Linked DNA regions of Homo sapiens: region 2 is linked to region 1. Evidence: fine-mapped expression QTL. Tissue or cell type: whole blood. Region 1 holds a variant in brackets; the other region holds the start of a gene. All regions are shown on one strand. Distances are from middle to middle.

Evidence for each region. PIP is the estimated chance that this variant, and not a neighbour inherited with it, causes the effect.
Region 2: it holds the start of BLMH, and the variant in region 1 is fine-mapped to the expression of BLMH in whole blood (TOPMed, PIP above 0.99).

The regions. Positions count from the first base shown.
Region 1 is chr17:30,331,417-30,336,563 of GRCh38, forward strand. It overlaps TMIGD1 (transmembrane and immunoglobulin domain containing 1), which reads right to left and starts at 2,641. Exons shown (of 7, transcript NM_206832.3): 1 at 2,584-2,641; 2 at 636-742. The coding sequence starts at 717. The variant A/T (reference allele first, on the strand shown) is at 2,053.
Region 2 is chr17:30,289,706-30,294,852 of GRCh38, forward strand. It overlaps BLMH (bleomycin hydrolase), which reads right to left and starts at 2,239. Exons shown (of 12, transcript NM_000386.4): 1 at 2,102-2,239; 2 at 1,606-1,803. The coding sequence starts at 2,114. LOC124903971 (a long non-coding RNA gene) reads left to right here and starts at 4,985. Exons shown (of 2, transcript XR_007065700.1): 1 at 4,985-5,147. RefSeq lists an enhancer at 1,460-1,519 and silencers at 1,970-2,039, 2,240-2,649.

The sequences.
Region 1 (5,147 bases):
TTTCATGTGAAATGGTATGTTCAGATAAACAGATGATTATTTGGGGTAACATTAGTAATAAAATGCATTAAAATGTAGGAGGATTCTGGTGGTGGCTCTGGAGAGAATAGAATACTTCACCTTGTCTTGTAATAATAAAACCCTAAAAACAATATTTTTCCATTTGATTTTTTTTTTTTTTTTTTTGAGACGGAGTCTCGCCCTGTCGCCCAGGCTGGAGTACAGTGACGTAATCTCGGCTCACTCACTGCAAGCTCCACCTCCTGGGTTCACGCCATTCTCCTGCCTCAGCCACCCGAGTAGCTGGAACTACAGGCGCCTGCCAGCACACCAGGCTAATTTTTTGTATTTTTAGTAGAGATGGGGTTTCACCGTGTTAGCCAGGATGGTCTCGATCTCCTGACCTCATGATTCACCTGCCTCGGCCTCCCAAAGTGTTGGGATTACAGGCGTGAGCCACCCGCCTGGCCTCCATTTGATTTTTTATTGTTAGTTGACTCCTGTACTGTGAGCCATGCTAACTGTGTAGTCATTCCAATTTGGAATTTAAGGATATATCCAATGCCCATTGATCACTTTTCTTAATCGGAAATTTTTCTTTATCTAAAAAGAGGCCAAAAAGAACTTTAACTTACTTGTCATCTCACGTGGCAGAAATAAAATTACTAAGAGAAGAAATCTTCCCATTTGCATTATGACACTGCTCTTCCATGCCATCTTTAATGAGTTAAACTCAGATCTACTAAGGGAAAAATAGTGCAGTTGGTTTTGTACTTTGGTCTGCAATGAGTTCGTGAACCTTCCTTCTGTCTATTATGCATTTAAAGTGAAGTCCCAGATGAATCATCCCAGCTATAACGGTACTACTTCTAGCTTTTAATTAAACAACCCTGTCTGACTAAGTTCAAAGTACATTTAGTAGTAAGAAATTTTTTTTAAAAGCAACATAAAACCACAGGAAATAGGCTATGACAGATAGAGCAGCGTCAGGGTGCCCTGGGGAAGATGAAACCAGTCTTCCCTAGAGAAACTGATAGAATTTCATTTTAGCAGAATGAAACTTGTCTCATTCTCAGACAGTCCCTACTGAACAAAGTAATTCTTGTTCTGAAAGTTTTTCTTGGGTCATTTTTGTAAAGATGTTCTCTGATAATAGAGAGTTTTTGAGACTACTCCAAATCCCATAGATTCAAATGGTGTGTACGTAGAAAAGCCTCAATTGAAACATGGCCTCTAGTTTAAACCATGTTAATCTTGTCTTTCTCCCACTATTCTCTCTCTCTCTTCCCCTTGACCCAATGGACTAAAAATAATAAATAATAAAGGTGTCCTTTCTCCCTTCTTGCTTTTGCTTCAACTCTCCCTCTCCCTAAGATATTCTCCATTTCCATCTGGGAAAAAAACATATATTCATTACTTCCTTTCAAGAGTACTACTATAAATATAGCGAACCACATACGGAAAACTTTCTGCGCAACAGGGACTGTGCTAAACACTTTACATACATCATTTCAGTCACAATTAAGCCTCCTAACAACCCTCCTGAGGTCGTTTCTATAGATTTAAAGAGACTATGTAATTTGCCTGAGATCCCACAGACAGTAAATGTCAAGGTCGGGATTTGAACCCAGACTCCCAAGACCATGCTCTTAACCACCCTACTCTCAACCACCCTACTACCCAATCTACTGCCTAGATTAATATTCTTTTCCTTTAAGAAGCTGCTGTTAGGCTGGGTGCAGTGGCTCATGCCTGTAATCCCAGCACTTTAGGAGCTGAGGCAGGTGGATTACCTGAGGTCAGGAGTTTGAGACTAGCCTGACCAACATAGTGAAACCCCATCTCTACTAAAAATGCAAAAAAAAAAAAAAAAAATTAGCCAGGCATGGTGGCGAGCGCCTGTAATCCCAGCTACTCGGGAGGCTGAGGCAGGAGAATTGCTTGAACCTGGGAGGTGGAGGTTGCAGTGAGCCAAGATTATGCCACTGCACTCCAGCCTGGGCGACAGAGTGAGGCTCGGTCTCAAAAAATAAAAATAAAAAATAAAAAAAT[A/T]AAAAAAAGCTGCTGTTAATCTTTTCCAGTCCCTGGCCACTGGGAGTTCTCTCCCCTTAACACCAGTATTAATTTACAAGAGCTGAAATATACCTATACCTACTCTACTCCTCCCCTGTCCCAGGCGTGCCCTGACAGGAGTAAGTTTCATTCATGCCAGGCTCACCCTTTCTGGCAGACAAGCCTGCATCAATCTTTTCGTAAGATGCAATTACTACTAATATTGATTCTTTTGTAATTTTAAATATTTGCCAAAAAGATTTCTATCACAGTGTTGTAACAGTGATTACTGCAGAATGTGGTCAATAGTAGAGTTTTCTCAAGCGCTCTGCACTACAAGTACTCAATAAAAACTGAGAGTGCAGGCTTCTTGCCAGACCTCACCCAGCCCTATTAAGGGGACAAATCTATGTCTTCTCTTTCCCTCCACTCCACCGAGACAGCAACTTTTCAAAATGTATTCCCCTCACTTGGCTTGTTTTTAATCTGTATGACTCTCTACTTTCTATATAAGACAGTCTTACCACTTACCTCTTGAGCTCTGAGAAGCTGACTTCCTTGGCCAACTGTTCCTCTGCCTGAAAACCCTAAATGCTTTCCCTGTTACAATCCTTTATAATACTTGAATTTGAACGCTTTATGACAGCAGGGTCAAATAAATAAGATAACTTGGGTTCAAAGTCTGTTTTTCTTTATGGAGTCTTAGAGAAGATAGTAATTGGGAAAGACATCTTCTTAAGATCTAAGTTTCTATGTCTACCTCGGTTACTAGGTGGGGCCGGATATTACTAACAGGGATGTGTTGTTCCAAGAAAGCTTGAACTTGTGCAAAAATCTGTAGCGCATCTCACTGAATATTGTCATATTTAAGTAAGATGGCTGCGTTTTGATCATCTAGCCTGGGGATTGTGAAGGGACGAGTCCAAAGAGAAGTTTGACTTTAACAGAGGTCAAAACATTGGAAGATTCTACACAACTTAAATAATGCTGGAAAAGTCTTAGTTACCACTAGTAACCCAAGCCCAGTGCATAAGCTGTACCAAGCCAGGCATGGCAGGGAGCCGTTTTTTTGTTGTTGTTGTTTGTTTTGTTTTTTGAGGCAGGGTTTCACTCTGTCACCCAGATTGGAATGCAATGGCACAATTGTGGCTGACTGAACCTCTGCTCCCAGCCTCCCAAGGAGCTAGGACTACTGGCGTGAGTCACCATGCCCAGCTAAACTTTGTTAATATATATATTTTTGGTAGAGATGAAATTTCGCCATGTTTCCTAGGCTGGTCTCTAACTCCCGGCCTTAAGCAATCTGCCCACCTTGGCCTAGGGAACAGTTTTATCCTCTTGAGGCTCTCACCTGATTGGGAGATCCTTGCATTACACTATGTTTATGGTATTGTTAACGATGCAAATTTTATCTGCCAAGTACTATTGTTCCCATTTACACAAAAATATAACAGAAGAATATTTATAGTTATCTACACATTTTAACACACTGCTGAAGCACACCAGCAATCTGCCTCTTACTAGCTATGTAACTTTGAAAAGTTATTTAACCTCCATGAGCCTCAGGATCTTCATCAATACAATGGAAATAGTAATAGTACCCTCCCTACGGAGTCACTGTGAGGATTAAATGAAATGAAGCATGTGAATCTGCCGCACAGTAAGCTCTTGGTAAACAGTAGCTCTTATTACTATTATTATTAATATAGGCTGAGCAGGGCATCCTAAATCAACACAACCTCACTATAGCATTGTTCAAGCAAAAATCAGAGCTAAGAGCAGCTCCTGTTGGCTGGGTTGCAAGCACCACCCAAACAGGTTTTGAGTTTGCCTCTCCAGGGATCCAAGATTGTCATTTTAAAATGAATTTAGCAATGGAGTGATGTTTTGGTTCTTGGTGCCTCCAAAATAGACCCTGAGACAGAGCTTTGAGTGCCAATAGTTTATTTAAAGGTGATCTCGGCCGGGCACGGTGAGTGGCTCACTCCCTTAATCCCAGCACTTTGGGAGGCCGAGGAGGGTGGATCATTTGAGGTCAGGAGTTCGAGACCAGCCTGGCCAATGTGATGAAACCCCGTCTCTACTAAAAATAGAAAAATTAGCCAGGCATGGTGGCGGGCGCCTGTAATCCCAGCTACTTGGGAGGCTGAGGTGGAAGAATCCCTTGAGGCTGGGAGGTGGAGGTTGTGTTGAGCCAAGATTGGACCACTGCATTCCAATCTGGGCGAGAGAGTGAGACCCTTCCTCAAAAAAAAAAAAAAAAAAAAGTGATCTCAGGAAGCATAGTAAGGAAGTAAGATAGGGAAGGGAGGAAACTAGTAAAGAATGTGTTAAAGATTACTACCGTGAGCAACTATATCCCTGGAGCTTTGGACAAGTTGTATTCTGTGCAGCATACCTCAGAATCAACTACTGATAGGGAAGGAAGCAACTTCTCTCCATCTCCGGCTGAGGGACACTCTCAAGGTGTTGACTCTCTGGCACTTTCAGCCTGCCCTGTGAGGGCAAAGTGTACTCTCTCAAGCTGGCCAACATGTCCAGGAAAAGATGCTCAGGAAGTCACTGGCTATATGGGAACTCTTTGCAGGTAACTTCTGGGTAGGCCAAGGATGTGTGAGTAGAGCACCACCAGCAACTTCTACAATTGGATATTAGGTGATATTAGGAAATAATGATTAATTATTATTAGTTGTGATCATGGTATTGCAGTTATGTAGAGAATGTTCTAATTCTCAAGGGATGCCTGCTGAAATATTTATGGGTCAAGTGTCATGATAATTGCAACTACCTTTCAAATGATTCAGCAAGAAAAGTAAACACATAAACACACAGCAAATATAGCAAATGTTAACATTTATTCAACTAAATAGGGGTCTATAGATCTTCATTGTACTATTGTTTCAACTTTTCTGTATGACATTTTTGTCATCAGAATGTTGGGGAAATGTATTCAGCAGATATTTATTGAGTATCTACCATGTGCTAAGTATTCTAAGTATTGAGGATGCCAGTTGCAGCCAAGCCAATATGGTGGCTTTGTCATGAATTAGGGAAAATATGGCTTCTCTAGTCACTCTACTGCCATCTGTGGAAAA
Region 2 (5,147 bases), 42 kb before region 1:
CAAATAAAGAATCCATTTTTCAGAGTAATGCCTTCTCCAAATTGTACTCTACTTCAAAATAAATTAACTGAGAGCGCCATTAGAAAAGTCTTTTAAGGTCTTAAATACAGGGAAATTATCTCTTTTCTGAGGGAAAATTCTGAGGGAAAAACTTTGACTTGTATTGGGTATAACCTTTTTACTAATATGAAAATATGTTTATAATATATTGGTAAGTGAAAAAGATAGGTAGCTTACATAACAATGTATAAGGTATCAATGCATATTAAACACTATTAAACACACACACACACACAAAACTTGACAAATATACAAGAAAAATATTTACTTGGTATTTACAAATATTCTACATTAAACAAAAATAATTTTGTAACAAGAAGAAAACTCTAGTTAACTATAGTGTTTTATGAAAGTCACTAGTGCCTATTAGTTCGTCTTTACCTTACATTTACCTGTATGTCACCTCTCTTCTATATGCTATATATTTCTAGTAGAGGGGATCTGGATGCACTGGTGATGTGAAAACTGCATGAAAATAAACTACACAACTCACATGCTATTTGGATCTTTTGTATGTAAAAGTGACACTGCAAAATGTGTAAGACCTGACCTGTTCCCTAACGGGTCACTGCAATCTAAACTATGTAGGACCACTGTGACATTACTAACTGGATCATCTGTAGCCTGAGAGCCCACACCACTCCAAGCACTTTCTTCTAAAGCAAAACATTAATTATTGTAAGGTCTTGACTTTTTCCTTAACATTTAAAAAATCAACTTTATTCAGGTATAATGTACATACAATAAAATGTACTCACGTTAAATGTGTGCTTTGTGAGTTCTAACCGACTCTAAACAAGCACTGATGTGCTTCCTGTCCGTATAGATAGACTGGGGGGTCGTTTTTAAGTATAGAAAGACTTTAAAAAATCCGTTTAGTACAATTTTGTTGTGAGAATGTGCTCCTTATTTAGATTGCTGGATATCCAATCTTTCACTATACCTGTTTTTTCTGAGAGTGGTGCTAGAAAGCAGATAGCAAAACGAGACTTCTTGACCAGCAAGGCATGAGAACAGAACTTTTTTCTGTATTACAAACTGATCTACTGGTGGGAACTGAGCCCATCAGCACATTAGCTTCAGTTGTAACCAAGAAGCATATTTAAAAGTAACATCTGATGACATTTTAATGTAATTACATTGTATCTTTTCTATTTCATAGTATAGGGCCTTCAGGGCATTTCTGGGGAGTCCTCCAAAGATATGAACATTTTCACATGTTCTGTTTTGTGACCAAGACCATACATCTCCAAGACACGGGCTACAAACCACACAGCATTGGAACATAATATAGTCAATTACACTCAAACGTATACTCATGGACATGTCACTTTTGTACTCTAACCGCATGTACTAACAAGCCACAGAACAGCAAAACAAACCACATGGGTAATGTTCTTAGACCTGCCTGTACCTGTGCCTCATTCTTTACGAATTTACGACCAGTTCTTTCAGTACGAATTTAAGACCACTCTTAAATAAGACACCAAAATGGGACGCTGTCAGGAAGGTCAAGGAACGTATGGGAGAAGTGGAAGCCCACACCTGAGCTCTTCTGGTTGGTGATTGGCTTGCCCTCCTGGGGCACGGCGTGCTGGAACACATGCTGCGCGCGCTGCACCGTGGCCCGCTTCAGACAGATGTCCAGCAGGTCGTGGGTGGTCCCGACATTCTGGGCAAGTACGAACTGGGGGTCGGAATTCAGTTTCTGTATCAGAGCAGCTACCTTCTCCGAATTCAGTCCTGTTGGGAGACCAAACAGGATTTTAACGCAAAAAGAGGGGGAAAGGGCTGATCTGGGGCTCCCGCGTCCCGAATCTAACTTCGTAAGCGCATCCTGGGGTGCCCGCTGCAGCGGGGAAACCCATAAGCGGCATCCTCCTCCAAGGAGCTGTCTCCCTCCAGGCCGATCCAGCCTGCCCCGAAAGCTCCCTCCCCGCCATCGCCAAGGGTCCCAGCCCCCGGCCTTCCCCGCCGCCGGGCCTCACGGGGACCGCGGAGCTCCTCCAGAGGACCGCGGCGGGGGACGGCGGCACCTCACCCGAGCTGCTCATGGCGCCCACGCTGCCCGGCGGGGTAACGGTAGCTTCCAGGGTCCTTGGGCGAGCGCCGGGATTGCGCTGCGGCTCGCTGCCTAGGGGGCCCGACCTGTCTCTCGCACCCGGAGCGCCGGAAAAAGGAAACCGGCTCGGCGGCGGCGGCGGCGGCGGCGGCGGGGAGGCTGAGGCTGGGAGAAACGGGGTCCGCGGAGGGACAAAACTCCCCCCTCGCGTTGCTGAGTCAGCGCCGTCGGGGCTGGCCCCGCCCGGGGGAGGGCCGACGGGGGCGGCCTAGCTGACGCGCTGGGTCCGCCAGCGCCCGGGGGCTGAGGCCGCGCCTGCCCCCGCGCAGGACCGCACAGATGGTCTGCGCGCCAGGGCGGCGCCGGCGCCTTCTCCCCCTAGGTTCCCGCCTCCGGGCCGCGCGGGCGCCCTCCCGGGATCAGGCCCGCTCCAAGGAGGGAGGCTGACGGGTTCCCTGTGGGCCCAGACCCCCAGTACTCTAGCATCGGGGAATCGTCCCCAGGAAGCCTTGTGAGAAGCCAAAAGGGAGCTCGAGGCGGGAGGGAGGAGCTGAGAGGTCCCATAATTAAGCGTCGGGCTTAGGACGGGTCGATATGTCACAAGGAATGCACCCGAAGGCTCTTCCTATAGGCTTCGTTTGCTGACCAATCACTGCATTCTCAATGGCAACTTGTTGCTTGGATTCTCATCAGAAGCAAATAATTGTCTTTGAGGGGGAATGGGAACCAAGCTCTTCCCCACCCACTCCAAAGCTACTACCAGAGTTCTACAAATAGACATCTGCTCATTTCAAGAACACTACCCATCTGGTCTTCACGGAGTCCACGAGTGGCTCCTGTATAGTCCAGCATGTCCCGTTGGGTTTAACTCAGGAGGATGACAGAGGCTAGCCGTATGCATCAATATTGTTTCGCCGAGTTCTCTACAAAACTAACTGATGCTCCCCCTCTAGGCTTTCAAGATAACTCAACAGTTTCCCAAAGTTTTGAGATTGTAAAAACCTTGTTTTTGTTGATTCCGTGTTTCATGCCCTGAAATCTCAGCCCTTAGTAAGATGCTGGGATAGAACCCACAGAGAGTAAAACAAAAACACTGAAACCCTGTATCTGCTATTCAAAACGATGAGGTTGAGTGTGTGTGTGTGTAACCTAGAATCTAGGTCTTCTTAGATTGAAAATCATCGCAGTTCTAAGGAACTCTGATATCTGGAAAAATCCATACTCAGGCACCAATCAGTCATTTGAGAAAGCACGGTTTCTATGTCCCTAGAGAGACTCGGCTAAAAATTGGGGCTATAACATAGCAACTATCTTAAGTGGGCCCATCAACCATCCTATTCTGAGGTTCTTTCAATATCTGAAAAAGAAGAGGCTGAAAATTATACAGAAAGAAATCACTGGTCCTTTCACAAAATGATGTTCAAGCATCCTGCCCAATTCAAGTCATAAATTTTTATTCAGTATCTAACATGTACTAGGCACTGGACAAACTGCTGATGACATAGAGACGAACAAAGCTTAATCTTGCCGTTAAGAAACTCAATGTAGTAGGAAAGAGATGCAAAACAACTTTTAGACTATCTGTAGTAGCATACCAATAGTGCTGTAGACTGTAGAAGCAATGAGGAGAGCACTGTCAATTAGGGCCAAAGGGTGCCTGAAAATAGAAGTGACAAGAGAGCATGATCTTGAAGAGTGGATGAGATTTTTACAAGTCAAAGAACAGGAGAAGGGCATTCAAGGCACCAGCGAAGGCGCAGTGAATAAAATCATGTTCAAGAAAGGGTGCATCATAATCGGATGTGGCTAAGAGCAAGGCATGTTTTGGGAGCAGAGGCAAGGTGTAGGACTGGAAAAGTTTTGTAGGTTTGGGCCAAGATATAAAGGGTTTTATGTTCAATGCCTGAGCATCTGGACTTTATCTTATGGTTAATTAGAAGACAAAATGGGTTTTGAAACAAAGGAAAAATATGCTCAAGTCTGTGTAAAAAAAGAAACCTGGTGGCAGTGGGGAGAGTAATTTGGAGGGGAGGGGCTCTGGAGATAGGGAAACTGGTTAGAAGGTTCTTCCAGTAGTGAACTTGGGAGAGGACAAAAGCCTTACATTGCGGAAAGGGAAGAGGCATTGATAATCTTGAAGTTTTCAGCGGAATAAGAAGATGGAAGGTGGTGTCATTAACCAAGAGAGGGCATACAGAAAAATAGGCATATTTGCATATTTGCAAGTGTGCAGATCTGAACTGAGTTTGGGCCATAGCAAAATTAGGATGCCCCACAGGACACCCAGGAAGAGAAGTTCAGGACGTAGATGAAAAGATGTCTAGAGATTAGATGAGACACATAGGTTCGAGGTGGAACAATGAAAGTCAGCAGGGTTACAGAGGGAAAGAGGATAGAGCAATAAAGAGATGAAGACCACAGATAGTGCCCTGGGCTGCAATGTGCAGTTGCACAGGGTGTTCATGGCACAAGGGCACCAGGCTGAGTGTGGTGAGTAGGGACTAAAATGCAGTCCAGGCTCTGCTTGCCAAGCCATGCACCCTGGCCCAGGCTGTGCACAGAGTATGATGTACCTTTCACTACTTTTTTTTTTTTTTTGAGATGAGTCTCACTCTGTCACCCAGGCTGGGGTGCAGTGGCATAATCTCGGCTCACTGCAACCTCCACCTCCTGGGTTCAAGCAATTTGCCTGCCTCAGCATCCTGAGTAGCTGGGATTACAGGCACGCACCACCATACCCGGCTAATTTTTGTATTTTTAGGAGAGACGGGGTTTCACCATGTTGGCCAGGCCGGTCTTGAACCCCTGACCTCGTGATCTGCCCACCTCGGCCTCCCAAAGTGCTGGAATTAAAGGCATGAGCCACCACGCCTGGCCCCTTTCACAACTTCTTATAAGGATGCCATATGGGAGTAGTATTAGCTCTGAAAATGATAATGTTTAAAGTATGGGTGAAGACAGAGGAGCCAGCAGAAATAGAAAGATCAGTCAGCGAAGTAGGAGACCCGGGGAGTTATGTCCTGGA